Homo sapiens: one gene and its partners. The protein of the gene in region 7 interacts with the protein of the main gene of each other region in a pairwise test. Each region holds a gene or a part of one and is shown on either strand. Other genes may lie near its edges. The genes, in order: GRIPAP1, MEF2B, HAP1, CDR2L, MIF4GD, ASB15 and HDAC4.

What was found.
Region 1: the proteins of HDAC4 (region 7) and GRIPAP1 interact in binary tests that used the Homo sapiens proteins (3 or more experiments, as listed by UniProt).
Region 2: the proteins of HDAC4 (region 7) and MEF2B interact in binary tests that used the Homo sapiens proteins (3 or more experiments, as listed by UniProt).
Region 3: the proteins of HDAC4 (region 7) and HAP1 interact in binary tests that used the Homo sapiens proteins (3 or more experiments, as listed by UniProt).
Region 4: the proteins of HDAC4 (region 7) and CDR2L interact in binary tests that used the Homo sapiens proteins (3 or more experiments, as listed by UniProt).
Region 5: the proteins of HDAC4 (region 7) and MIF4GD interact in binary tests that used the Homo sapiens proteins (3 or more experiments, as listed by UniProt).
Region 6: the proteins of HDAC4 (region 7) and ASB15 interact in binary tests that used the Homo sapiens proteins (3 or more experiments, as listed by UniProt).

Annotation. Positions count from the first base shown.
Region 1 is NC_000023.11:48,985,265-48,988,764, reverse strand, and holds part of GRIPAP1 (GRIP1-associated protein 1), read left to right. Parts: intron 1-566; coding exon 567-644; intron 645-887; coding exon 888-980; intron 981-3,362; coding exon 3,363-3,497; intron 3,498-3,500. UniProt on the Homo sapiens protein: Regulates the endosomal recycling back to the neuronal plasma membrane, possibly by connecting early and late recycling endosomal domains and promoting segregation of recycling endosomes from early endosomal membranes.
Region 2 is NC_000019.10:19,167,464-19,171,617, reverse strand, and holds the start of MEF2B (myocyte-specific enhancer factor 2B), read left to right. Parts: upstream 1-1,354; 5' UTR 1,355-1,413; intron 1,414-4,154. UniProt on the Homo sapiens protein: Transcriptional activator which binds specifically to the MEF2 element, 5'-YTA[AT](4)TAR-3', found in numerous muscle-specific genes. Activates transcription via this element. May be involved in muscle-specific and/or growth factor-related transcription.
Region 3 is NC_000017.11:41,731,844-41,735,974, forward strand, and holds the start of HAP1 (huntingtin-associated protein 1), read right to left. Parts: upstream 2,801-4,131; 5' UTR 2,792-2,800; coding exon 2,323-2,791; intron 956-2,322; coding exon 876-955; coding exon of another isoform or gene 852-875; intron 552-851; coding exon 387-551; intron 276-386; coding exon 94-275; intron 1-93. UniProt on the Homo sapiens protein: Originally identified as neuronal protein that specifically associates with HTT/huntingtin and the binding is enhanced by an expanded polyglutamine repeat within HTT possibly affecting HAP1 interaction properties.
Region 4 is NC_000017.11:74,997,632-75,001,131, forward strand, and holds part of CDR2L (cerebellar degeneration-related protein 2-like), read left to right. Parts: intron 1-1,872; coding exon 1,873-1,985; intron 1,986-3,500.
Region 5 is NC_000017.11:75,265,728-75,268,231, reverse strand, and holds the end of MIF4GD (MIF4G domain-containing protein), read left to right. Parts: intron 1-39; coding exon 40-149; intron 150-330; coding exon 331-486; intron 487-601; coding exon 602-694; coding exon of another isoform or gene 695-781; intron 782-1,264; coding exon 1,265-1,492; 3' UTR 1,493-2,004; downstream 2,005-2,504. Other genes in the region: MRPS7 (small ribosomal subunit protein uS7m), read right to left, coding at 2,309-2,504. UniProt on the Homo sapiens protein: Functions in replication-dependent translation of histone mRNAs which differ from other eukaryotic mRNAs in that they do not end with a poly-A tail but a stem-loop. May participate in circularizing those mRNAs specifically enhancing their translation.
Region 6 is NC_000007.14:123,615,321-123,618,820, reverse strand, and holds part of ASB15 (ankyrin repeat and SOCS box protein 15), read right to left. Parts: exon of another isoform or gene 3,421-3,500; intron 2,601-3,420; coding exon 2,548-2,600; intron 2,458-2,547; coding exon 2,326-2,457; intron 1,244-2,325; exon of another isoform or gene 1,243-1,243; coding exon 1,084-1,242; intron 1-1,083.
Region 7 is NC_000002.12:239,048,021-239,051,520, reverse strand, and holds the end of HDAC4 (histone deacetylase 4), read left to right. Parts: 3' UTR 1-3,353; downstream 3,354-3,500. UniProt on the Homo sapiens protein: Responsible for the deacetylation of lysine residues on the N-terminal part of the core histones (H2A, H2B, H3 and H4).

The DNA of each region.
Region 1 (3,500 bases), on a different chromosome or scaffold from region 7:
CAGAGTGACAGGTGAAGGGGTCAGTCTGAGAGTTCACCAGGACCTGGAAACTAGGAGGTTGTGAGTTTGAGACCTCTAGGATCTGGGACTATGAGTTTGGGTGGATCTCACCTGGGAAGTAGGGACGTGGGAGATGAGTGTGTCTGAAACCCCTGGTGGTTGGGATTGGGAGGCTGGGTGAAACTGTCATCCTTGGGTGCTGACTACATCTGAGATCCATGGGGCTGACTGTGTCTGAGAATCCTGGAGCTCCCAAGCTAGAATCTGGGTGAGCATGAGACTTCTTATGGATGGGAGCTGAGTGAGTTTGAACCGCGTAGCAGCTAGGGCCAGGAGTCTAGTCGTGCCTGAGATCTTGTACGCTGGGATAGAGGGGTTGACTGTGTCTGAGGCCCCTGAGGGTAGTGACCTGGCGTCTGGGTGAACCTGAGATTGCTGTTGGCTGGATAGTCTGAGACCCACAGGTGCTGAGAACATGCTGCTGGGTGGTCAAACAGAGAGTCTGTACGGTTATATGCACCCCAGGAGAGGCTGAGGTGTAAAATGGGCTCCCCTGGTCTCCACAGAGCTTGGCAGAGCTGAGAGATCAGCGGCAGGGGGAGCGCCTGGAACATGCAGCAGCTTTGCGGGCCCTACAAGATCAGGTATATTGTACTGCGTGGGCTCAGGGAGCTGGGGTTCAGGATGGGGGCAGCCTGAGTGGGTACTACATAGTCAGGCAAGGTCCCAGGGATCCTGCTTCCCCCAGGCCTTCGTGTGTGTGTGTGTGTGTGTGTGTGTGTGTGTGTGTGTGTGTGTGTGTGTGTGTGTCCTTTCTTTCTTGGTCGTGGGTAGGTCCTGTCCCCCTGTTCTGGACCCACTCTCACCTGCTGTGGACGTGGGGCCAGGTATCCATCCAGAGTGCAGATGCACAGGAACAAGTGGAAGGGCTTTTGGCTGAGAACAATGCCTTGAGGACTAGCCTGGCTGCCCTGGAGCAGGTAAAGAACACCTGGGGGCCCTTGCTGATCCCTCTCCAGTTCCCCCATCTCCATCTGCTTCTGGTCCACATCAGGGTAGGGTGGTCTGGACCCCATGCTGTTCTCCTGTCTTTGTTTCTGTTGCTCCTTTCTGTTGGCGTCCAGCCCTCTTCTCTCTGGCCATCCATCCCTACTTTTTTTTTTTTTTAACTTTTAAAAATTTTATTGGGGAGGCTGAGGCAGGAGAATTGCTTGAACCAGGACCCAGGAGGCAGAGGTTTCAGTGAGCCGAGATCGCACCACTGTACTCCAGCCTGGGCGACAGAGCAATACTCTGTCTCAAAAAAAAAAAAAAAAAAAAAAGGGCGTGGTGGCTCATGCCTGTAATCCTAGCACTTTGGGAGGCCAAAGATGTGTGGATGGCCTGAGCTCAGTTCAAGACCAGCCTGGGCAACACGGTGAAACCCCATCTCTACTAAAATACAAAAAATTAGCTGGGTGTGGCGGTGTGTGCCTGTAATCCCAGCTACTCGGGAGGCTGAGACAGGAGAATCTCTTGAACCCAGGAGGCGGAGGTTGCAGTAAGCCGAGATCGTGCCATTGCACTCCAGCCTGGGCAACAGAGCGAGACTCCGTCTAAAAAAAAAAAAAAAAAAAAAGCCGGGCATGGTGGCTCAATTCTGTAATCCTAGCACTTTGGGAGGCCGAGGAGGGCGGATCACCTGAGGTCAGGAGTTCGAGACCAGCCTGACCAACATAGAGAAACCCCGTCTCTACTAAAAATACAAAATTAGCTGGGTGTGGTGGTGGGCACCTGTAATCCAAGCTACTCGGGAGGCTGAGGTGGGAGAATTGCTTGAGCCCAGGAGGTGGAGTGTGCGGTGAGCCGAGATCGTGCCATTGCACTCAAGCCTGGGCAACAAGAGTGAAACTCTGTCTCAAAAAAACAAAAAACAAAACGAAAAAAAACTTATTGGCCGGGCATGATGGCTCACACCTGTAATCCCAGCACTTTGGGAGGCAGAGGTGGGCGGATCACCTGACATCAGGAGTTTGAGACCAGCCTAGCCAACATGGCAAAACCTTGTCTCTACTAAAAATACAAAAATTAGGCCAGGCGCAGTGGCTCACGCCTATAATCCCAGCACTTTGGAAGGCTGAGACGGGCGGATCACCTGGGGTTCGGAGTTCGAGACCAGCCTGGCCAATATGGTGAAACCCCGTCTCTACTAAAAATACAAAAAAAAATAGCTGGGCATGGTGGCGCACACCTGTAATCCCAGCTACTCGGGAGGCTGAGGCAGGAGAATTGCTTGAACCTGGGAGGTGGAGGTTATAGTGAGCCGAGATTGTGCCACTGCACCCCAGCCTGGGTGACAGAGTGAGACTCCATCTCAAAAAAGAGAAAACAAAATTATTTTGTAGAGACAGGGTCTCACTATGTTACCCAGACTGGCTTAAACTTCTGGCCTCAAGCTATCTTCCCACCTCGGCCTTCCAAAGTGCTGGGATTATAGGTGTGAGCCACTGTGCTTGGCCTATCTCTGCTTTTTTTTTTTTTTGTAGACGGAGTTTCGGTCTTGTTGTCCAGGCTGGAGTGCTATGGCACGATCTCGGCTCACTGCAACCTCCGCCTCCCAGGTTCAAGCGATTCTCCTGCCTCAGCCCTCCCAAATAGCTGGGACTACAGCCGTGTGCCACCATGCCCAGCTAATTTTTGTATTTTTAGTAGAGACGGGGTTTCACCATCTTGGCCAGGCTGGTCTCGAACTCCTGACCTCATGATCCACCCGCCTCGGCCTCCCAGAGTGCTGGGATTACAGGCATGAGCCACCGCGCCCGGCTTCTGCTTTTCTTTGTTTCTAGTTTCTCTCTAGTAAAGTGCATGAAATGTACTAATCTTAAGTGTACACTCAGTGAATCCTCTCTTCGTCTCTCTCTTTTTTTTCTCTCTCTCTCCCCGCCACCATAGCCACCACCCAGATCAAAGTATAAAGCACTTTTAGTACCCCAGAAGGTCCCCTTTACCCCTTCAAAGTCAGTACTCCCCCAGAAGTAACCATTATTCTGATCTCTAGCAACATAAGATTCATTTCGCTTGTTCTTTAACTTCATATAAATGGAATCAGCTGCTCTTTGTCTCTGACTTCTTTCTGGCAGCACTATGTAAGTTTATCCACGTGGCAGCACAGATCTGTTCTCTTACTGTTGTGTGGTATTCCATTGTATGAACATACCACATTTACCCATTCTCTTCATTGTTTTTCTGTTTGAAATTTCCTCTCTCTTCCTGGTTCTCTTCCCACCTCCCTCCCTGTTTCCCTGGAACTAGGGGGCTCATACCCTGTCCCTGGCCCCTGGGGTCCCTTTCACTCTACTTCTCATCACCACTACTTTCTCCAGATCCAAACAGCAAAGACCCAAGAACTGAATATGCTCCGGGAACAGACCACTGGGCTGGCAGCTGAGTTGCAGCAGCAGCAGGCTGAGTACGAGGACCTTATGGGACAGAAAGATGACCTCAACTCCCAGCTCCAGGTA
Region 2 (4,154 bases), on a different chromosome or scaffold from region 7:
GTAATCTCAGCACCTTGGGAGGCCGAGGAGGAAGGATCTCTTAAGCCCAGGAGTTTGGGACCAGCCTGGGCAACATAGTGAGACATCCTCTCTTAAAAAAAACAAAATTAGCTGGACCTGGTGGTGGCCTGCCTGTAGTCCCAGCTGCTGGGGAGGCTAAGTTGGGAGGATTGCTTGAGCCTAGGAGGTCGAGGCTGCAGTGAGCTATGATCATGCCACTGCACTCCAGCCTGGGCAACACAGTGAGATCCTGCCTTGAAGAAAAAAACAAGAAAAACCTTTCTCCTAGTGGCAAACTCCTACACATACTTGAAAGCCCAGCACAAATGCCCTCTCTTCTGAGAAACCCTCCCTGACTCCTCTGGCACAGCCCTTGCCCCAATTCTGGCCTGTCCCAGCCTCCCATCCCTCCTCTGGCCCAAGCCTGACCCCACAGGGTTAGGGGAGTGCATGGATCCCCTGCCTGCCCCAGACGGGCCGGGGGCTTCTCCAGAAGTGCCCATCCCAGAGCCATCTTTATCCTGTAATTCTTTTCACATTGATACATTCACCAACCCCTGCTCTGATCTTCCTGTGGGTCTGGCCTGTGCTGGGATCCCAGGGGAAGGGGTGGATTTAGAGTTCTGGGCTGGGGTCCAATCCTGGAAGGCCCCTCACAGCTGACCTTTGAAGTTTAGAAAACAGCCTTTAGCGGGGAGAGGTAAGGAGAGGGAAGTGGTTGGTGGAAGCAGTGTGGTTGTCTTGGACTGTGGAGGGGCAGGCGGTGCGGGCTTGAGGGACCAGTAGCTGCGGAGGGTCTGTCACTCCCTGTGGGAGCACATATCTGGCCCCAGGAGGCACAGTTGAGTGAGGCCACACAGGCCACCCGAGAGCCCCGTCTTGCAGTCTTTCCATTCTAGCGAGCGCGAGGGTCAGCGTTGCCTGCGAGAAGGGCTTGGTTCCTCGGGGCGACGGGGTCCGGGATCGGAGTCTATTTCACTCAGGATGGAATCAATCCAGGCAAGTTGGGCCGAGTTAGGAAAAGGTTTAGAATTAGGGTTAGGGTCACAGTAGGGTCAGGGGTCGGCAGTAAGGTCAAGGGCGCCCAGTGAGGGCGGGGAAAGCCTGGCCAGTCTGATCCAGCCCCCTCCCTCCGTTCTGCTTCTTCCTTATCCGCGCCCCCACCCATGGCGCCCCAGCATCCTTTCGCGTCTGAGTCCCAGGCCCATGAACTCCCGGGTCGGGGCCACGCCCAAGTGCACGCCCATCGCCGCCTCCAGGGTGACGCCCTGTATGCAAATAAGCCCGTCCCGCCCAATCAGCTCCCGGGGGCAGGACCGCCCGCTCCCAAGGCACCTGCGGCCGCGGGCCCCTGATCTTCGTGCAGCCGCCGCGGGTCCGTGCGCCCAGCGTCCCAGGGCCCAGGCCGAGCAGGTGCGTGTCATATCGGGTTGAGACTCCTGTGGTGTCCTCTGAACGGCTTCTGCGGGCTGGGTGGGTTTTGGAGGTCCGGGTGTACTGCTGGGCGTCCCAGGGTGGGGTGTGTGTCTAAAGGGGTGTGTGTCGTGGGGTGGTGAGTCCCCGAGGTTGTGGCAGGAGGGGGTTGTGTCTCCAAGGGGTGTGTGTCTGAAGGGTGTGGGTCTGGAAGTTGTGTGTCCAAGGGCTCTGCGTCTGAGATTTGGTGTGAGTTGGGGAGTTGGAGAGTTAGCTGTGTGTCCAAAATCATGGTGCTGTGAGGCCCTATTATGTGTCTGTGAGCTCTGTGATGTGGCATGTGATGTCCCTCTCTCCTGGTGTGCACTCCTTTAGCATTAGCGCATCCCCTGTGCACAACCCTATGCCTTCTTGCTGTGGGTGTACACTCGTTTGTCACAGCAGGATGGTAGGCACAAAACCTTGGAACGGGGGAGCAACAGCTGCCGGGGCCAACTCTCCTCCCTTTGCCTCAATGGGTACAGGAACAAGAGTCACATCCCCGTGTGGTTGTTAGCACATGACAAGGTGGTGGCAGCATTACTTTCACGGTCACAGTCCTCCCTCCCTATCTCTTTTGGGGTCCAGGGCTGCAGATATGGGTGACCTGTGTCCTTGGCCACCCTAACCCCTAGTTGCAGACCCAATTAGTCAGAAATAGCTGGCCGGGCACTGTGGCTCATGCCTGTAATCCCAGCACTTTGGAGGCTGAGGCAGGAGGATCACTTGAGCCCAGTAGTTTGAGACCAGCCTGGGCAACATAGTGAGACCCCCATTTTCTTTTTCTTTTCTTTTCTTTCTTTGTTTTTTTTTTGAGACAGGGTCTCATCCTGTCGCCCAGGCTGGAGTACAGTGGTGATCTTTGTTCACTGCAACCTCCAGCTCCCAGGCTCAAACAATTCTCCTCCCTCAGCCTTCTAAGTAGCTGGGATTACAGGCGCGTGCCACTACCGCCTGGCTAGTTTTTGTATTTTTAGTAGAGATGGGCTTTCACCATGTTGGCCAGGCTGGTCTTGAACTCCAGACCTCAAATGATTCACCTGCCTCAACCTCCCAAAGTGCTGGGATTACAGGCGTGAGCCCCTGCACCTGGCTTTAAAAAAAAATTTTTTTTGAGACAGAGTCTCACTCTGTCACCCAGGCTGGAGCGCAGTGGCTCAATCTTGGCTCACTGCAACCTCTGCCTCCCAGGTTCAAGTGATTGATTTTCTGCCTCAGCCTCCCGAGTATCTGGGACTACAAGCGTGTGCCACCATGACCAGCTAATTTTTGCATTTTTTGTAGAGACGTTGTTTCACCATGTTTGCCAGGCTGGTCTCATGTGATCTGCCTGCCTCAGCCTCCCAAAGTGCTAGGATTACAAGAGTAAGCCACCGCATCTGGCCAAAAAAAATTGTTTTTTTAATTAGGCAGGTGTGGTGGCTTATGTGTATAGTCCCAGCTACTCGGGAGGCTGAGGCAGGAGGATCACTTGATCCGAGGAGTTCGAGTCTGCAGTGAGCTATGACTGAGCTACTGCACTGCAGCCTGGGTGACAGAGCAAGATCCTGTCTCTAAAAGAAAAACAAAAAGAAAGAAAAGAAACAAAAAAATGGCCAGGCGCGGTGGCTCACACCTGTAATCCAAGCACTTTGGGAGGCTGAGGCGGGCGGATCACCTGAGGTCAGGAGTTCGAGACCAGCCTGACCAACATGGAGAAACCCCATCTCTACTAAAAATACAAAATTAGCCGGCCATGATGGTACATGCTTGTAATCCCAGCGACTCAGGAGGCTGAGGCAGGAGAATCGCTTGAACCCAGGAGGCGGAGGTTGTGGTGAGCGAAGATCGTGTCATTGCACTCCAGCCTGGGCAACAAGAGTGAAACTCCATCTCAAAAAAAAAAAAAAAAAAAAAAGAAGAAAGAAACAAAACAATAATCAAGGCCTCAGGCTAGCCTGGCCAAGAATCATCCCTGGGGAAGGGCAGGGCCCCTGGACCTTGGGCATTCGGGACAAGAACTCTCAGACTCTTGGAGTGAAGGAAACTGGATACAAAAAAGTATTTCGACTTCGGAGAACCAGTGTGTGAGGACTGATTTCCAGAGATGAAAAGGGCTTTCTAAAAAGGCAGGCTTGTTCCCTCATGTCCCCTTCCTGTTGTTCAGTAAAGGGGGAAGCTTGGCCTCCAGCAAACAGAATTTCAGGACAGTTAGGATCTTGGGATGTCATCTTAGAGAGCAGGAAGCTGGTTTGCAGGAGGGAAGGCTGAGGCCAGGTAGTAACACTAGGCCCCTCAAAAAAGGATGGAGCTCAAGGCCATGCCTCAGTCCCCCAAGAGAACAGAGGCTGGGGTCACGAGGCCCAGCTTCCTCTCCCTCCTCTCTGTGTGACCCCCCAACAGGTGGCTGCCCCTCTCTGAACTTTGTGGCAGCTCCTGTGAGCGGAGCAAGCTGAACCCACTCTTGGCTTTCCCATCCCAACGAATGATTTATTTGGTTAAACTATGACCCAACCAGGTGGACATCTGGAAAATGCAAATTAAGAAGAGAAGGGGAATTTAAAACATTTGCTCACCCCAACTTGGGTGCAGTGAGTGTAGACATGTTGGGTGTTTGGCCTTCTGGAAGAGGTTTCTTTCTTTCTTTCTTTCTTTCTTTGTTTTTGAGACAGCATCTTGCTCTGTTGCCCAGGCTAGAGTAAAGTGGTGTGATCTCAGCTCAC
Region 3 (4,131 bases), on a different chromosome or scaffold from region 7:
CCTGCCAGCAAGCACATCACCTGTGTCCCTCTTAACAAATGAGGAAATTGAGGCTCAGAGAAAGGACTTGCAGGTGCAAAGGCAGGAACTCACAGCTTAGGGGCATCACAGGGATGAGCACACTGCAGGTCTTCCTCTGCTTCTTCTTCTTCCTGTTCCTCTTCTGCCTCCTTTTCTTCCTCCTCCTCTTCTTCATCCTCATCCTCCTCATCAGAATCTGAGTAGAGCTGGAGGAGCTCATCCCGCAAGTTCACCTGGTGTCTGAGGTATAAAATCTGGCAGGAAGAGAGAGGAGCCATGGGTTGGGAGTGGGCAGGGACAGGAGAGGGTCCTGGCATGAGGCAGGTGTAGATTGGCCCGCTATCCTCTCCTCCCCACCCGGTTACCTCCTCCTTGGCTGAGCCCAGCAGGGCTTCCAGCTTGCTGTTCTCCTCCATCAAAACACTGTTCTGTTTCACCAGGGACTGGCCGATGCGAGCTGCAGTGTTCAGGTCCCTCTCTCTCTGCAGGACCATCCCATAGGTAACGCTCTCCCAGACAGGTGGGAGAAGCTGGGGGGGACACAGGGGTCAGAGAGAGGCTAGGCCCCTAAGAGAACCTTCCCCATCCCCTAGTTCTCTAGGGTACCAGACCAGAGTCTGCCATTAACCCACTGTGGAACCTGGCTCAGTTTCCCCTCATGGAAAAAGAAGATCAGACCAGATTGGCTCTGAGAGCTCTTCCAGCCTGAACATCCCACATCGACCTGTCTTCCATAAGAAGGACCCTAACCTGGGGCCCCAGAGAGACTGCCAATCAGGAAATAAACAAGACCCCCACCCCTACAGGACAAAACTAGAATAAGGGCTTGCCTGGATCAGGAAGGCAGTACACACCTCCTCCAGCAAATATAACATCACTTTGACGTCTTCCTGGGTGATCTTTTTGACTGGCGGAGGTAGGTTAGGACACAGTGCTGCAGGAGGCGGCAGGTGGGGAGAAAAGGCCCAGCCAGGTCAGGAAAAAGGAGCAGATGCTACCAGCAAACAGCTGTTTCCCGTCCTATCGTCAGTTCTCCAACAAGGGTCATCGGGAGAGAAGACTGGGCTCCCCTCCTGCCCCCCACATCCTCCCCTTACCCCTCGGCACTCAACACTCCCTTCCCTGCTCCCAGGGCCAAGTGGACAGGGTTTTTAGGTTTTTGGGTTTTTTTTGGTTTTTTTTTTTTTTGGTTTTTTTTTTTTTTTAGACAAAGCCTTGCTCTTGTCCTCCAGGCTGGAGTGCGATGGCGAGATCTCAGCTCACTGCAACGTCTGCCTCCCAGATTCAAGCAATTCTCCTGCCTCAACCTCCCGAGTAGCTGGGGTTATACACGCCCGCCACCACGCCCAGCTTATTTTTGTATTTTTAGTAGAGACGGGGTTTCACCATGTTGGCCAGGCTGGTCTCGAACTCCTGACCTAGTGATCCGCCCGCCTCGGCCTGCCAAAGTGCTGGCTGGGATTACAGGCGTCAGCCACCGCGCCCGGCTTTTTTTTTTTTTTTTTTTTTTTTACCCCTGGAGGAGCCTGAGGTAAGGGGGTCACAGTCCTCCAGGCTCAGAAACTGGGCTCTCCGGACACCTGGGTCCCTGGCGCCTAGAATGGAGACAGCCAGGGGAAGTACAGCCTCAGACTGGCTCATCACCCCCTACCCAGGAGGCAGTGCAATGGAGTCTCCTGGGTCATACAAACAGACGCAGCCACTCACCCTGCACCTGTTGCGTGTGCAGAGGACAGGAGGAAGACTTCACCAGATTAGGAGACACTCGAGCCTCTAGGCCCAATCCAGAGATCTCCCCCGACCCGCAGGAGGATAGGAGAGACAAGGGGCAGGAAAAGAGCGCGACTTTGCCCCCATACCCGCAACCAAAAAGTGGGCAAAACTTCCCCCTCCGCCCGCCCACCCACCCCTCCATCGCACGCAAGCCCGGTCGGCCAGCGCAGACTCAGAGCGCGCGGGACAGCGCCCTCCCGCAGCCCCCCGCCCCTCTCCTGGCACTGCGGTAGACCCAGGAGAGGGGCGCTGAAGGGGTGCAGATCTGCCGCAGCAAGAGGCGCGTGGAGGTGGGTGGGCGAGCGTGCAGGCCCCAGAACCTGACTCACGGGCACAAACCAGGGGACAAGAGCAGAGGAGGAGATGGAGAAGGGGCGACCAGACAGACACCGCAGTGACATCGCGGGGGTGGTGGACGGGTGACACTGAGTGCTAGAGGGGGCGGGGTGCCTGGACCCGATGGGGCCACTTCCTCCCTGGAGTTGCCCCAGTCCCCACCCGGTCCAGGACCCCGGGGGCCCGATTTACCTTCCTCCAGCTCCCGAATAAAGGCGGCGCGCTCAGGGCCGGACACCCCGGGTCGCCGGCCAACGTAGGCGGCTGGCGTCTTCCAGATGCCCGCTGCCTTTCCAGTCCCCCGGCCAGTGGCCCGGGAACCAAACGGCCCTTGGAATACGAAGCGGGTCCACGGCGCGTCCGAATTGTCGGGCATAGACCGGACATCCCCTTGGATGGCCGAGAATGCGGACGGGCGCCGGGCTCCTGCCTTGGCTCCAGCCTCCGAGGCCGGGCGAGCTCCGGTGCGGGCTTCCGAGAGGAACTGGGATCCAGAGGTGGCTCGGGATCCTACTCTCTGTCCAGTGCCCCGTGCCTGCGGCTGCGCAGAGGGCTCCGGAGCGGGACTGGCTGAGGGCGAAGGTGCACAGGTGAGTGCTGCTGGGTCCCCGGGTCCGAGCCGGCTCCCCGCGCAGCACCGGCCCAACCTCTTCGGGCGCATCTCGAGTCTGCCGTCCGCTGCTGCGGCGGGACCTTTATAACCTGCGCCAGCCGCCGGGCCGGACCACGCGTAGGGGTGGGGGCTGCCGAGAAGCAACTAGTGGCAAGCGGGACTCAGAGCCGCGCGGGAGGGGAGCTAGTGGTGACGGAACAGAGCACAGTAAGAAAAGCAGGGCAAGAAGGGCGAGTGCAAGTTCCGGATGGCTCCGAGTTGGGATGGGAGCGAAAGATTTTTTCTGCCCTCTCCATCTCCGGAGAATGGTTCTGCCCAAAGCCGCGGCTGCCCCAGCACTCGCGGGTCCCTGGCTGGGGGCAGCCCCTCCCCAGCTGCCGCGCCGGGGTTTCGGGTGCCTTCCCTGGTGTAGAAGCTGCCAACCCAACGTTGTGCATACGGTCTGGGGTGGCCAGTGCATTAGGGCAGCGCTGCGTCTTTCCCGGTTGACTGGGAGAGACATTCCAAACTCCAGTGCGCTTCCAACGTGCTGCAACCCTGCCTGGCGCTGCAACCCTGCCTGGCGCTGCAACCCTGCCTGGCGCTGCAACCCTGCCTGGCGCTGCAACCCTGACCCTCGCGCTCACACCCCAGTGCTCGCGCCACTCGACGTCTTCCATTTGATTGGATTAACTGTTCTTCACCTCCAACCCTAGTTCGCTTTGCCCTCCTCTTGCCATGCTGGCGAACCCCTGTTCTCCTTGGGAGACGCCTCTTAAAAGTCTCCCTGTAGCCGGGCGCAGTGGCTCACGCCTGTAATCCCAGCACTTTGGGAGGCCGGGGCAGGCGAATCACCTGAGGTCAGGAGTTCCAGACAAGCCTGGCCACCTGGTGAAACCCTGTCTCTACTAAAAATACAAAAATTAGCCAAGCATGGTGGCGTGTGCCTGTAGTCCCAGCTACTCAAGAGGCTGAGGCAGGAGAATTGCTTGAACCTGGAAGGTAGAGGTTGCAGTGAACCGAAATTGTGCCAATGCACTCCAGCTGGGGCTACAGAGCGAGCCTACCCCTCAAAATAAATAAATAAATAGAATACTTTTTTTTTAAGTATCCTACTGGAAATGTTGGGTAGACAATTAGATGTATAAATCTGAATGTAGGGGAGAGACCGGGCTGGAGATTTAAATGTAGGAGTCATTGTTCTTTGATGACCATTTAAAGCTATGAGACTGGTGAGATCCCCAAGAGACTGAGAGAAGACAGGTAAGAGCGCCCAGGACTAACCCCCTAGGATTCAGAGGGCAGAAAGAAGAAGAGGAGGCATCAAAGGAAGACTGGGATGAGTGGGGCAGTGAAGTAGAGGAAAACCAGGAAAGTTGGGTCCTAGAAAGTAAAGAAAATGTTTCATG
Region 4 (3,500 bases), on a different chromosome or scaffold from region 7:
TAATACCAGCATTTTGAGGCCAAGGTAGGAGGGTCGCTTGAGGCCAGGAGTTCAATACTAGCCTGGGCAATATAACAAGACCCTGTCTCTACAAAAAAAATTTAAGAATTTTAGCCCAGGTGTGGTGGCTTATGCCTGTAATCCCAGCATTTTGGGAGGCCTGAGATCAGGAGTTCAAGACCAGCCTGGCCGACATGGTGAGACCCCCTCTCTACTAAAAATACAAAAAATTAGCCGGGCGTGGTAGTGGGTGCCTGTAATCCCGGCATAAAAAAGATTTTAGAAGTTAAAAAAAAAAAAAAAAAAGTACCGGGCACGGTGGCTCACGCCTGTAATCCCAGCACTTTGGGAGGCCGAGGCGGGTGGATCACGAGGTCAGGAGATTGAGACCATCCTGGCTAACACGGTGAAACCCCGTCTCTACTAAAAATAAAAAAAAATTAGCCAGGCATGGTGGCGGGCGCCTGTAGTCTCAGCTACCTGGGAGGCTGAGGCAGGAGAATGGTTAGCGTGAACCTGGGAGGCGGAGGTTGCAGTGAGCCAAGATCGCGCCACTGCACTCCAGCCTGAGCAAAAAGAGCAAAACTCCGTCTCAAAAAAAAAACATTGTACTATTCCTGTAGTCCCAGCAACCGATATTATAGTCCCACGCCTATTCACAGGCATGATCATATACACTGTAGCCTTGAGTTCCTGGGCTCAAGGGATCCTATCCCAGGCAGCCGTATTGCACCACCTTTCTTTTTTTTTTAATAGAGATGAGGTCTCACTATGTTGCCCTGGGAGGCTGAGGGAGGAAGATCGTTGAGCCCAGGAGTTCAAGGCTGCAGCACATATGATCACACCTGTGAATACTCACTGCACCCCAGCCTGGGTCCCATCCCTTAAAAGAAAAAAAAAACTGCCCCATGAGCTCACAGTTAGTTGGGGGAGCTGAAAAAGATAAAGGAGTAACTTGCTTGGGAAATTAGATGGTGCTAAGTGCTAAGGAGAAAGATGAAGCGGGGGAGAGACTGCAGGGCAGGGAACAGTGTGACTTTGAATCAAGTGATTGGGGAAAGATCTAGAGAAGTTGACAGGCACAGACTTGAAGGAGAAGAGGGAACAAGTCCTGGAAGTATCAGGAAAGAATATTCCGTGCGTGAGGCTGGCTTCTGGGTTGTCCACACCACTCTCTGCTGTGTTGACTTCCTGTTGTCTTCATCAAAGCTTTTTTCCGTGGTATTCTAAAATTAGGCCAGCAGTGGGGCTGGGAGGGCATCTGTGTTAGTCCCTTCCTGGCTGTGATCCGCCACACTCACTGTCAGTATTAAGGCCCAGCAGCCTGTTGATAAGCTACGCTGTCTCACCATGCGCTGGTGTGGAAACAGGGCCCAGCCAGCATGCCTCAAGGTAGATGGAATCCCCACTGGTCAGAGAAGAAGCCATGCGGACACTCCAGCTTGGCCTGGGCACAGCACTGACTCCTCACCCGCTAGTCTGGCTGTTAAGAGGAGAAGGTGCACTGCCTTCCAGCCTAGGAGGAGGACAGCATTTTGTATTTGTTCCACTGATGCAGCTTAGAACCACACCCCTGAGAATCGTGGCAAAACTTTCACAACCTGGAAAATGTTGAAAGCAACCATTCCTATTTTTGTTTGTTTTTTATTACATCTTGCACACACACACACACACACACACACACAGACACACACAAAAAGAACATTCCAGGCAGAAATAACAGTGCAAAGGCTTAGCTCCTGGCTTACCTCTCCTCCCAGGCCTGGAGGCTCCCAGTGTCTTGGTTACATTGGGGTCACCTAGAGTAGATGCTCGGAACATGAATGGGCGTCCTCTGCCTTTGTTCTCATGCTCGTGTTTCTCCTATCCTAGACTTGCACCTAGCTGCGGAGCTGGGGAAGACTCTGCTGGAGAGGAACAAGGAGCTGGAGGGGTCCCTGCAGCAGATGTACTCCACCAATGAGGAACAGGTGCAGGAGATCGAGGTGAGGGCCCTGCATGTGCTTGCCCACACCCCTCGAGGGCCCCTTGGCCTGTGTGTGCCTTTATGCAACTTAGAATAAGGTGCCAGCTTATCGGACACAGCCTTAGCCCAATAGCCTGGTACAGTTCACAACTGTGCTATCCTGTACAAGGATAGCACAGCTATCTCAGGCAGCCCTATTGCACAACTAGATTTTTTTTTTTTTTAAATAGACACCAAGTCTCACCATGTTGCCCAGGCTGGTCTCTAACTCCTGAGCTCAAGTGATCCTCCCACCTCAGCGTCCTAAAGTGCTAGGATTACAGGCATGAGCCACCAGGCCCAGCCTGAACCACCATTTTTAAGCCCCACTCAGCTGAAGACAAATACATCAAAGCAAACTTGTCCTTAGAAGGGGAGAAGGGGCTGCTGGCTCATGCTTGTAATCCCAGCACTTTGGGAGGCCAAGGTGGGTGAAATACTTGAGCCCAGGCAACATGGCGAAACCTTGTCTCTATAAAAAATACAAAAATTAGCTGGCTATGGTGGCATAAGCCTGTGGTCCCAGCTACTCAAGAGGATGAAGTGAGAGGATTGCTTGAGCCTGGAGGTTGAGGCTGCAGTGAGCCGTGATTGTGCCACTGCACTCCAGCCTAGGCAACAGAGCGAGACCCTGTCTTAAAAATAAATAAATAAAATAAATAAGATTTATTTCTTTTTTGAAATGGAGTCTCACTCTGTCACCCAGGCTGGAGTGCAGTGGCGCGATCTGGGCTCACTGCAGCTCTGCCTCCCGGGTTCACGCCATTCTCCTGCCTCAGCCTCCTGAGTAGCTGGGACTACAGGCGCCCACCACCGCACCCGGTTAATTTTTTTTGTATTTTTAGTAGAGACGAGGTTTCACTGTGTTAGCCAGGATGGTCTCCATCTCCTGACCTCGTGATCTGCCCGCCTCAGCCTCCCAAAGTGCTGAGATTACAGGTGTGAGCCATCACGCCGGGCATAAAAAAGATTTTAGAAGTTAAAAAAAAAAAAAAAGGCCGGGCACAGTGGCTCACACCTGTAATCCTAGCACTTTGAGAGGCCAAGGCGGGCAGATCACGAGGTCAGGAGATCGAGACCATCCTGGCTAACACGGTGAAACCCCATCTCTACTAAAAATGCAAAAAATTAGCCAGGCATGGTGGTGGGCACCAGTAGTCCCAGCTACTCAGGAGGCTGAGGCAGGAGAATGGTTGGCGTGAACCCAAGAGGTGGAGCTTGCAGTGAGCCGATGTCGCGCCACTGCACTCCAGCCTGGGCGAGAGAGCAAGACTCCGTCTCAAAAAAAATAAATTAATTAATTTAAAAAAAAAAGAGGCTGGCGTGGTGGTGCATGCCTATAATCCCAGCCCTTTGGGAGGCAGAGGTAGGCAGATCACTTGAGGTCAGGAGTTCAAGACCAACCTGGCCAATATAGTGAAACCCTGTCTCTACTAAAAATACCAAAATTAGCCAGGCATGGTGGCAGGCACCTATAGTTCCAGCTACTCAGGAG
Region 5 (2,504 bases), on a different chromosome or scaffold from region 7:
AGCAGCAGCTCTAGACTCCCCTCCTATCTCTACCCCTAGATCCGGGTGCTGTGGACTTGGAGAAAGTGGCCAATGTGATTGTGGACCATTCTCTGCAGGACTGTGTGTTCAGCAAGGAAGCAGGACGCATGTGCTACGCCATCATTCAGGTTGGGGGTTGGGAGAGGAAAGGAAGCTGCTTTGAGGAAGGTGCTTCAGGAGTGGGCAGAAGGCCTGGCCTGCAGGACAGAGATGCACAGGGTCTAGCTCAAAGAGAGAGAGAGGCATAGGATGGGTGGGGTTACAGGGGCACCGCCCCCCACCCTTCACCTTCCTCTCCCTGGCTCACAGGCAGAGAGTAAACAAGCAGGCCAGAGTGTCTTCCGACGTGGACTCCTCAACCGGCTGCAGCAGGAGTACCAGGCTCGGGAGCAGCTGCGAGCACGCTCCCTGCAGGGCTGGGTCTGCTATGTCACCTTTATCTGCAACATCTTTGACTACCTGAGGGTGAGGCCCCGGCAGCCACCCTGGGAGGCAGACATGGCCTGTTTCCTGAGGCCCAGGTTGGACTGCTCCCCTTGGCCACTAAGCCTGGTGCTCTGACCCCTCCTCTTCCTCACAGGTGAACAACATGCCCATGATGGCCCTGGTGAACCCTGTCTATGACTGCCTCTTCCGGCTGGCCCAGCCAGACAGTTTGAGCAAGGAGGAGGAGGTGGGTGGCCCCAGCCCTGGCACAAGCACAGAAGGCTGCAGGATGGACAGTCCAGCTCAGCCGTGTGTCAGCCCACTGCTCACGGAGGTCTCTGAGGACTGTGTCACTTCTGGGGCAGGACTGTGGGGGTGTTTAAGGCCTGTCAGTTATAGGACAAGCTGCCAGGTCTGGAGTTTATCCAATAGAGAGCAGCCAAAACCTACTGGCTCAGTAGCTTCCTTCTCAGTCAGAAAGCCAACGTATGATGGCAGCTGTGCAAGCCATGGCTAGCTGTGGGTACAGACGGCCCCAAAGCCAAACCAGGGTCAGGCAGTGTGTGGGAGGCAGGAGAGTGGGATGAAGAAGTGGTTTGGAGACAGGCTTGAGTGGAGCCTGGCCAGATGAGGGACCTCAGGCAAGTCCCGGAACTCATTTCTTTCTGTGTAAGATGTGGAAGTACCCACTGGATGGTAAGGAGGGAGCAAGGGAATGAGTGTAAAGGCAAAGCACAGCACCTGGCACTTGGCAAATGCTGTGTGAGAGGCTGGCACTGCCCCAGTTCACTTGTGTTACCCACACTGTCGCCTGCAGGTGGACTGTTTGGTGCTGCAGCTGCACCGGGTTGGGGAGCAGCTGGAGAAAATGAATGGGCAGCGCATGGATGAGCTCTTTGTGCTGATCCGGGATGGCTTCCTGCTCCCAACTGGCCTCAGCTCCCTGGCCCAGCTGCTGCTGCTGGAGATCATTGAGTTCCGGGCGGCCGGCTGGAAGACAACGCCAGCTGCCCACAAGTATTACTACAGCGAAGTCTCCGACTAGGCCTCCAGATCAGGGCTTCCTCACCAGCACTGGCCTTTCTTCTACCCACCTCTAAAGCTGGCAGTGGAGTCTCTGCCTCACCCAAAGACTTTTCCCTTCCAGACTTTGAGTGTCTTCCCTTCTAGACTTTCCCATCTCCTGGTGAGATGTTTCCCACTTATGCCGTGGTCCTGCCCTGAGCCCCTTTCCCCACCACAACCCACCACGGCCAGGCAGAGAAGGGCAACTCCCAAGAGCCACTGCACTGTGTAACCATTAGTGCAACTACTACCTTGGTGCCTCAGTTTACCCATCTGTAAAATGGGTAAGCATAGCCACTGGTGGGATATTTTGGGATGTCAAGGGGTGGAGGCAGAGCACAAGTCACACCAGAAACTGCTTTTTATACATTTTGTATAAGGACAACTCTGGAAACAAGCCTATTTCCTCCAGCCAGTTTCACTGAATGCTGCACCACATGCTACACCAGTTCAGCGTGAGAATTTTCTAATAAATCTTTTCTGATACTAAAACTGCTTCCTTTATATATCCAAAGGTCCGCCCCAACCTAAGGGAAGAGAAAACAGCCCTGAGTTTCCTGGAGGAAATTCCCAAGTCAATGTGCTCCCTCTTTACAAGGAAATAGGGGCAGAGAGAGCAAGTTCCAGCCTCAAAGAAAGAAGGATTAACGGATAGTGAATATGCTGCTACATCTTTCTTACGAGGCCTGCCCACCCTTACAAAGGAACTACATCCTTAACCCACAGGTAGTTTTCAGCGTGGCAGTAGCTCACACTGTTTCTTGCGGCAGAGGGCCCTGGGCTCCTCCTGGAGACTCTACCACCAGCGGTAGTGGGCCAGGGCACGGTTGGCCTCTGCCATCTTGTGCAAGTCATGCTTCCTCTTGATCACGGGGCCCTGGTTATGGAAAGCCTCCAGCAGCTTGTGTGACAGCTTCTCCGGCATCAGTGTCCGCTGGTGCTTTTTATCCCGGCACTCAGTGATCATCCACTTCATGGCTAGGAAGCGGCGA
Region 6 (3,500 bases), on a different chromosome or scaffold from region 7:
TGTTCATGATTTATCCAAGTTTGCTTAACAATATTCAGGTTTTCTTAATATTAAGGTTGTTTAAAATTTTTTTTTAAGTGATTCCTCTGTGAACAGGAGCTGTGATGGTTCTTAACTAGTTATGACCTTTAACGTCTTTCTCTGTGATTGCTGGTAAATAATCTTACATCCTTTCCTCCCTCTCCTCCTGCTCCTGCTCCTCTTCCGTCTCCTCCTCCCGCCACACAGACAACTTCATAATGGCTCTTCCCTCTTGAACATCTATTAATGTGAGAGCTTTTATATATTTTTTCTCTAATTTTCCTCACAATTCTGCATGGTAGGTGTTGTATTTCCATTTTATACTTGAGAAAACTGAGGCCCATGATTGCAATTCACAGCTAAGATTTAAACCCAGTGATCTCACGTGCCAACACCACATTCTTACTCCACCACCCTGTGTCCCTAAGAGAAAGGAAATGTTATCTCTGGGTCATTTGGAGTTAATCTTATCACTCTCTGCTTTCACAAACAGACTTGCCAATTCTTATTGTTCAGCAAATAGCGGGATATACAAGACAGAGCTGGTAAATGTCACCTTCAGATTTCCCATTCTTCCCTCGTGTCACAGTGTACCCCTCATAGGTGCCATGCTCTGCATCTGTGTGCTCAGAATCTGCTGGCCTCCCTTCCTTCCAGGTTCGCCTGATCAGTCTGATGTGAACTTGATGTCTCCCTTTGGAATCCCTTTCCACCTCTTGCTTCTGGCTACATATGGCACATGCAACCCTCCTTACAACTGGATCCTACCTAGAGAATATTCCTTTAAAATTGCTATCTCTGGCTTCAAAAAACTAATTCAGATCCCTCCTGGTTAGTTGCAGTCTCTACAACTGGATACTGAAGGATGTAGCCATCTTTCATATTTGACATCCTTGTGGGATAGGAAAACAAAATCACAGGACAGAAGACATGGGGGTTAGGCAAGTAGCTCAGGGAATGGAAGGAACTGAGATCACAATTTTAGCCATTATACAGTGGTTTCCAATAAATACTTATTCTTTGTTTCAAACTATAAAAGTTCTAGAAAAAAAGGTCATTTACCAATCAGAAGGGGGGTCTCTCCTTTATCATTTTTTGTGTTGGGCCACACTCCCTTTTCTAATAAAGTTCTTACATTTTCCACCAGACCAGCTTTGACTGCCAAAGTCAAGGGTGTTTCTCCATCACAGGTCTTGAATTCCCAGAGTGTCTTATAGGATGCTGTGACATGAAAGCATTATGTTGAAAAGTTGAAAATACTCACTTATAGGATATTACACAAATCAGAGCAATCCAATATTATATACATCGGATTGAACAAAGTCAATTGATGAAAATGAAAGGACTTTGACAAAAGTTTACCAAATGACGGTGAGGATAAAGTAGATGCACATGGACTTGCTAATCAAATTGACAGCTAGAAAACCAAAAATCTGTTTCTAGCTGCTTTTTTGAAAATGATGTGCTAAGTCTCATTTCTTGATACATTACAAAACAATGTTTCAATCCTTTGTATTATAATTTATATTGTAACTGAAATTGTTTTTTTGTGAAATGAAATCTGTGAATGTGGGAATGGAGAATGTACTTGAATGTAGGTATCGCTGTGTCAAAATGATCCTTAACATCATCTATATCTGTCTGTCTGGCTGTCTAGTTTTCTAGATGGCTGGCTTATAATCAAGTATGTATCTCCCAGAACATAGAGCTGTCATGCAACAGTGGAAGCTGAACGATAGGGCACTCTCAAAAGTGTTCTGTAAGATGCTGAGATGTGAAAACACTGTATTAGAACATAAAAGTTACTGTTAATATTTAACAGTGGCTTGATTTGCCATAATATTTTTTAATGCTTACATTATGAAAAAAATCAATGTAATGTAAAGACCAGTATTGTCAGTACTCCCTGTTGTACTATATAAGAATCTTTTGGAAACTGTTAACTCAAGAGATAGTTCAAAATGAAAAATTTAAAATTGATTTCCAAAAGAAAAGTGTTATATATGACTCAATTAATTCATGATATATAGAAACTTTTATCACTTTTATGTGATAACCACATCTTTCCACCAACCTGTGTCTCATTCATAGGTAAAAGGATGCAAAAGGTAAACCCCCAATGTCAAAAAAATTCCTAATTTTTATACTCTGAGTTTAAAACATGGGTGCTGCCTTTTTCAAATTCCAAATAATATTTTAATCTGCCTTTTCTTTCTGCTAGTTATGTTCACTGAAAACACTTATAACATCAACATATCAACATTCTTGCTCTGGCTTGGTCAAACATGTTTTATGTTCTCTTACCATCCAGAACAATCTCAAGTATTTGTTGAATGGGTTGAACAACAGCTTCATGCAATGGAAACCATCCTTTTTCATCAGCTTCATCCATTGCATATTTATATTTTACATACTCCTGGAGCTCAGGAATGTGACCTAAATTAAACACATGGACTGATGACTAATCTCTGTTTTTGCAAGGTGGAATCTCCAGTCCATCCCACTGTAGATAGTACACCCATTTACCTTGTTTTATGGCCTCCACAAGTTTTCTGTTTTGAGCACTTAGGGGTACAAATCTATGAGATAAAGAAAAATAATATTTATACTAGATACTAGTGATATAGTTCAAGGAACCAAACATTTTAATTTATATTGCATTTTTAAACTTAATTTTAATAATCAAGATCCAAAGGAGATGCATATAATTGATTTTATCTCCTTAAAAAGTAAATGTATGGGAGTCAGACACAGAGTATATTTATGATGCATTGATCTAAGAATATTAGTGAAGATGGCAAAATAGAAGATTACAATGCTATCTCTGAGATATCTCAAAGCAATAAAAAAGGAGTAAACAATTGGAGTCAGATTCAGAGGAGCTAGGTTCAATTCCCAGCCTGATTTTGTGATTCTGGGGAGGCCAATTAGCCTTTCTGGATGTGGGTTCTTCATCTGCAAAATGATGGAATTAATAGAAAGATCTCTAGGTTTTTCTAATTTTAAACACTCTATGCTCAAAAAATGTTTTTTGCTTTGAACTTAATAATTGCTAATAAGATACTTACTTGGGAGCTTATGGTCTAAACTACATATGCGAGTTTTAAATCAACTGTTCCACAAGTGAAAATAGGCAGGGCATTTACTGAACAAACTCCCAATCACTGGCCCAGCAGGTCATGATTTAAACCCTCATGGAGGTTTTCTGGTGTGTGTGTTTGTTAAGTGGAAAGAAGGAATTCCATAACAAATTTACTTAACTCTGTTAAGCAGAAACATCTGCTAGCATACCAGGGTTGTGAATGCCTTCCAGGAAGCTCTGAAGTTCTAAAGCTTGTTGGAGATAAGGGAGAAATTCCAGACCAGAAATTTCAGTGTACTACGTCTATTTTTTCAAAGCTCAAAAGCAACAATTTTTAAACACTGGATCTCTTCAAAAGTACTACTAAATTCCAGAATACAAGATTTTAAACACTATA
Region 7 (3,500 bases):
TATGAATTTTACATTTTTCCTCACCATTTAGCAATTTTCTGAATGGTAATAATGTCTAAATCTTTTTCCTTTCTGAATTCTTGCTTGTACATTTTTTTTTACCTTTCAAAGGTTTTTAATTATTTTTGTTTTTATTTTTGTACGATGAGTTTTCTGCAGCGTACAGAATTGTTGCTGTCAGATTCTATTTTCAGAAAGTGAGAGGAGGGACCGTAGGTCTTTTCGGAGTGACACCAACGATTGTGTCTTTCCTGGTCTGTCCTAGGAGCTGTATAAAGAAGCCCAGGGGCTCTTTTTAACTTTCAACACTAGTAGTATTACGAGGGGTGGTGTGTTTTTCCCCTCCGTGGCAAGGGCAGGGAGGGTTGCTTAGGATGCCCGGCCACCCTGGGAGGCTTGCCAGATGCCGGGGGCAGTCAGCATTAATGAAACTCATGTTTAAACTTCTCTGACCACATCGTCAGGATAGAATTCTAACTTGAGTTTTCCAAAGACCTTTTGAGCATGTCAGCAATGCATGGGGCACACGTGGGGCTCTTTACCCACTTGGGTTTTTCCACTGCAGCCACGTGGCCAGCCCTGGATTTTGGAGCCTGTGGCTGCAAGGAACCCAGGGACCCTTGTTGCCTGGTGAACCTGCAGGGAGGGTATGATTGCCTGACCAGGACAGCCAGTCTTTACTCTTTTTCTCTTCAACAGTAACTGACAGTCACGTTTTACTGGTAACTTATTTTCCAGCACATGAAGCCACCAGTTTCATTCCAAAGTGTATATTGGGTTCAGACTTGGGGGCAGAAGTTCAGACACACCGTGCTCAGGAGGGACCCAGAGCCGAGTTTCGGAGTTTGGTAAAGTTTACAGGGTAGCTTCTGAAATTAACTCAAACTTTTGACCAAATGAGTGCAGATTCTTGGATTCACTTGGTCACTGGGCTGCTGATGGTCAGCTCTGAGACAGTGGTTTGAGAGCAGGCAGAACGGTCTTGGGACTTGTTTGACTTTCCCCTCCCTGGTGGCCACTCTTTGCTCTGAAGCCCAGATTGGCAAGAGGAGCTGGTCCATTCCCCATTCATGGCACAGAGCAGTGGCAGGGCCCAGCTAGCAGGCTCTTCTGGCCTCCTTGGCCTCATTCTCTGCATAGCCCTCTGGGGATCCTGCCACCTGCCCTCTTACCCCGCCGTGGCTTATGGGGAGGAATGCATCATCTCACTTTTTTTTTTTAAGCAGATGATGGGATAACATGGACTGCTCAGTGGCCAGGTTATCAGTGGGGGGACTTAATTCTAATCTCATTCAAATGGAGACGCCCTCTGCAAAGGCCTGGCAGGGGGAGGCACGTTTCATCTGTCAGCTCACTCCAGCTTCACAAATGTGCTGAGAGCATTACTGTGTAGCCTTTTCTTTGAAGACACACTCGGCTCTTCTCCACAGCAAGCGTCCAGGGCAGATGGCAGAGGATCTGCCTCGGCGTCTGCAGGCGGGACCACGTCAGGGAGGGTTCCTTCATGTGTTCTCCCTGTGGGTCCTTGGACCTTTAGCCTTTTTCTTCCTTTGCAAAGGCCTTGGGGGCACTGGCTGGGAGTCAGCAAGCGAGCACTTTATATCCCTTTGAGGGAAACCCTGATGACGCCACTGGGCCTCTTGGCGTCTGCCCTGCCCTCGCGGCTTCCCGCCGTGCCGCAGCGTGCCCACGTGCCCACGCCCCACCAGCAGGCGGCTGTCCCGGAGGCCGTGGCCCGCTGGGACTGGCCGCCCCTCCCCAGCGTCCCAGGGCTCTGGTTCTGGAGGGCCACTTTGTCAAGGTGTTTCAGTTTTTCTTTACTTCTTTTGAAAATCTGTTTGCAAGGGGAAGGACCATTTCGTAATGGTCTGACACAAAAGCAAGTTTGATTTTTGCAGCACTAGCAATGGACTTTGTTGTTTTTCTTTTTGATCAGAACATTCCTTCTTTACTGGTCACAGCCACGTGCTCATTCCATTCTTCTTTTTGTAGACTTTGGGCCCACGTGTTTTATGGGCATTGATACATATATAAATATATAGATATAAATATATATGAATATATTTTTTTAAGTTTCCTACACCTGGAGGTTGCATGGACTGTACGACCGGCATGACTTTATATTGTATACAGATTTTGCACGCCAAACTCGGCAGCTTTGGGGAAGAAGAAAAATGCCTTTCTGTTCCCCTCTCATGACATTTGCAGATACAAAAGATGGAAATTTTTCTGTAAAACAAAACCTTGAAGGAGAGGAGGGCGGGGAAGTTTGCGTCTTATTGAACTTATTCTTAAGAAATTGTACTTTTTATTGTAAGAAAAATAAAAAGGACTACTTAAACATTTGTCATATTAAGAAAAAAAGTTTATCTAGCACTTGTGACATACCAATAATAGAGTTTATTGTATTTATGTGGAAACAGTGTTTTAGGGAAACTACTCAGAATTCACAGTGAACTGCCTGTCTCTCTCGAGTTGATTTGGAGGAATTTTGTTTTGTTTTGTTTTGTTTGTTTCCTTTTATCTCCTTCCACGGGCCAGGCGAGCGCCGCCCGCCCTCACTGGCCTTGTGACGGTTTATTCTGATTGAGAACTGGGCGGACTCGAAAGAGTCCCCTTTTCCGCACAGCTGTGTTGACTTTTTAATTACTTTTAGGTGATGTATGGCTAAGATTTCACTTTAAGCAGTCGTGAACTGTGCGAGCACTGTGGTTTACAATTATACTTTGCATCGAAAGGAAACCATTTCTTCATTGTAACGAAGCTGAGCGTGTTCTTAGCTCGGCCTCACTTTGTCTCTGGCATTGATTAAAAGTCTGCTATTGAAAGAAAAAGAAAGCGAACAGTTTTTGTTTGTTTTTTTTGCCGTGTGTGCTCCATAGTGGAGGCGCTATTTTCCAATTGATGAGAATGACAAACATATATAATCTATCTATCTATCTATCTATCTATCTATCTATACAGGGGGCTTGAACCTTACTCACCCAAGAGCTTCTTACGGAATGTGGTAGAAAACCAAGTTGTAACGACACTGTAACCTACCTGATGCCTGTTCGCGCCCGCCGTGAGCTGCGCACTGGCCGTGGCCACCATTCACCTCTGTAATTTAATCCGTTTCTCTTGGATTGTCTGGACGTGCCCGATGGTTCTTTCTTTTGCTCAGTGGAGTTGGAGGTTTTGTGTTTGGTTTTCTCATTCTTGTCTTGTTTTGTGTGGGTGGATTTTCACCGACCAATGATATCCTCTTCTGACGGTCACCTTCTTTCCACTTCACTGGAGTCCAGTATTCTGTACCACATCACGCAACGTGTTATCTTGTGGTGTAAATAAAGACTGCGTTACTTGCCCTCCCAGCTCTGGTTTCTGCCCGTGCGCTCTCTTCCTCATTGGCTCTCGCATGTCTGGGACCCTGTGGGCCGAATGGCCAGTGCCCTGGGTCCCATCCGGATGGCTGCATGGGAATCACTGGACCCCATGGGGACGGCCCCTAGACCCAGACC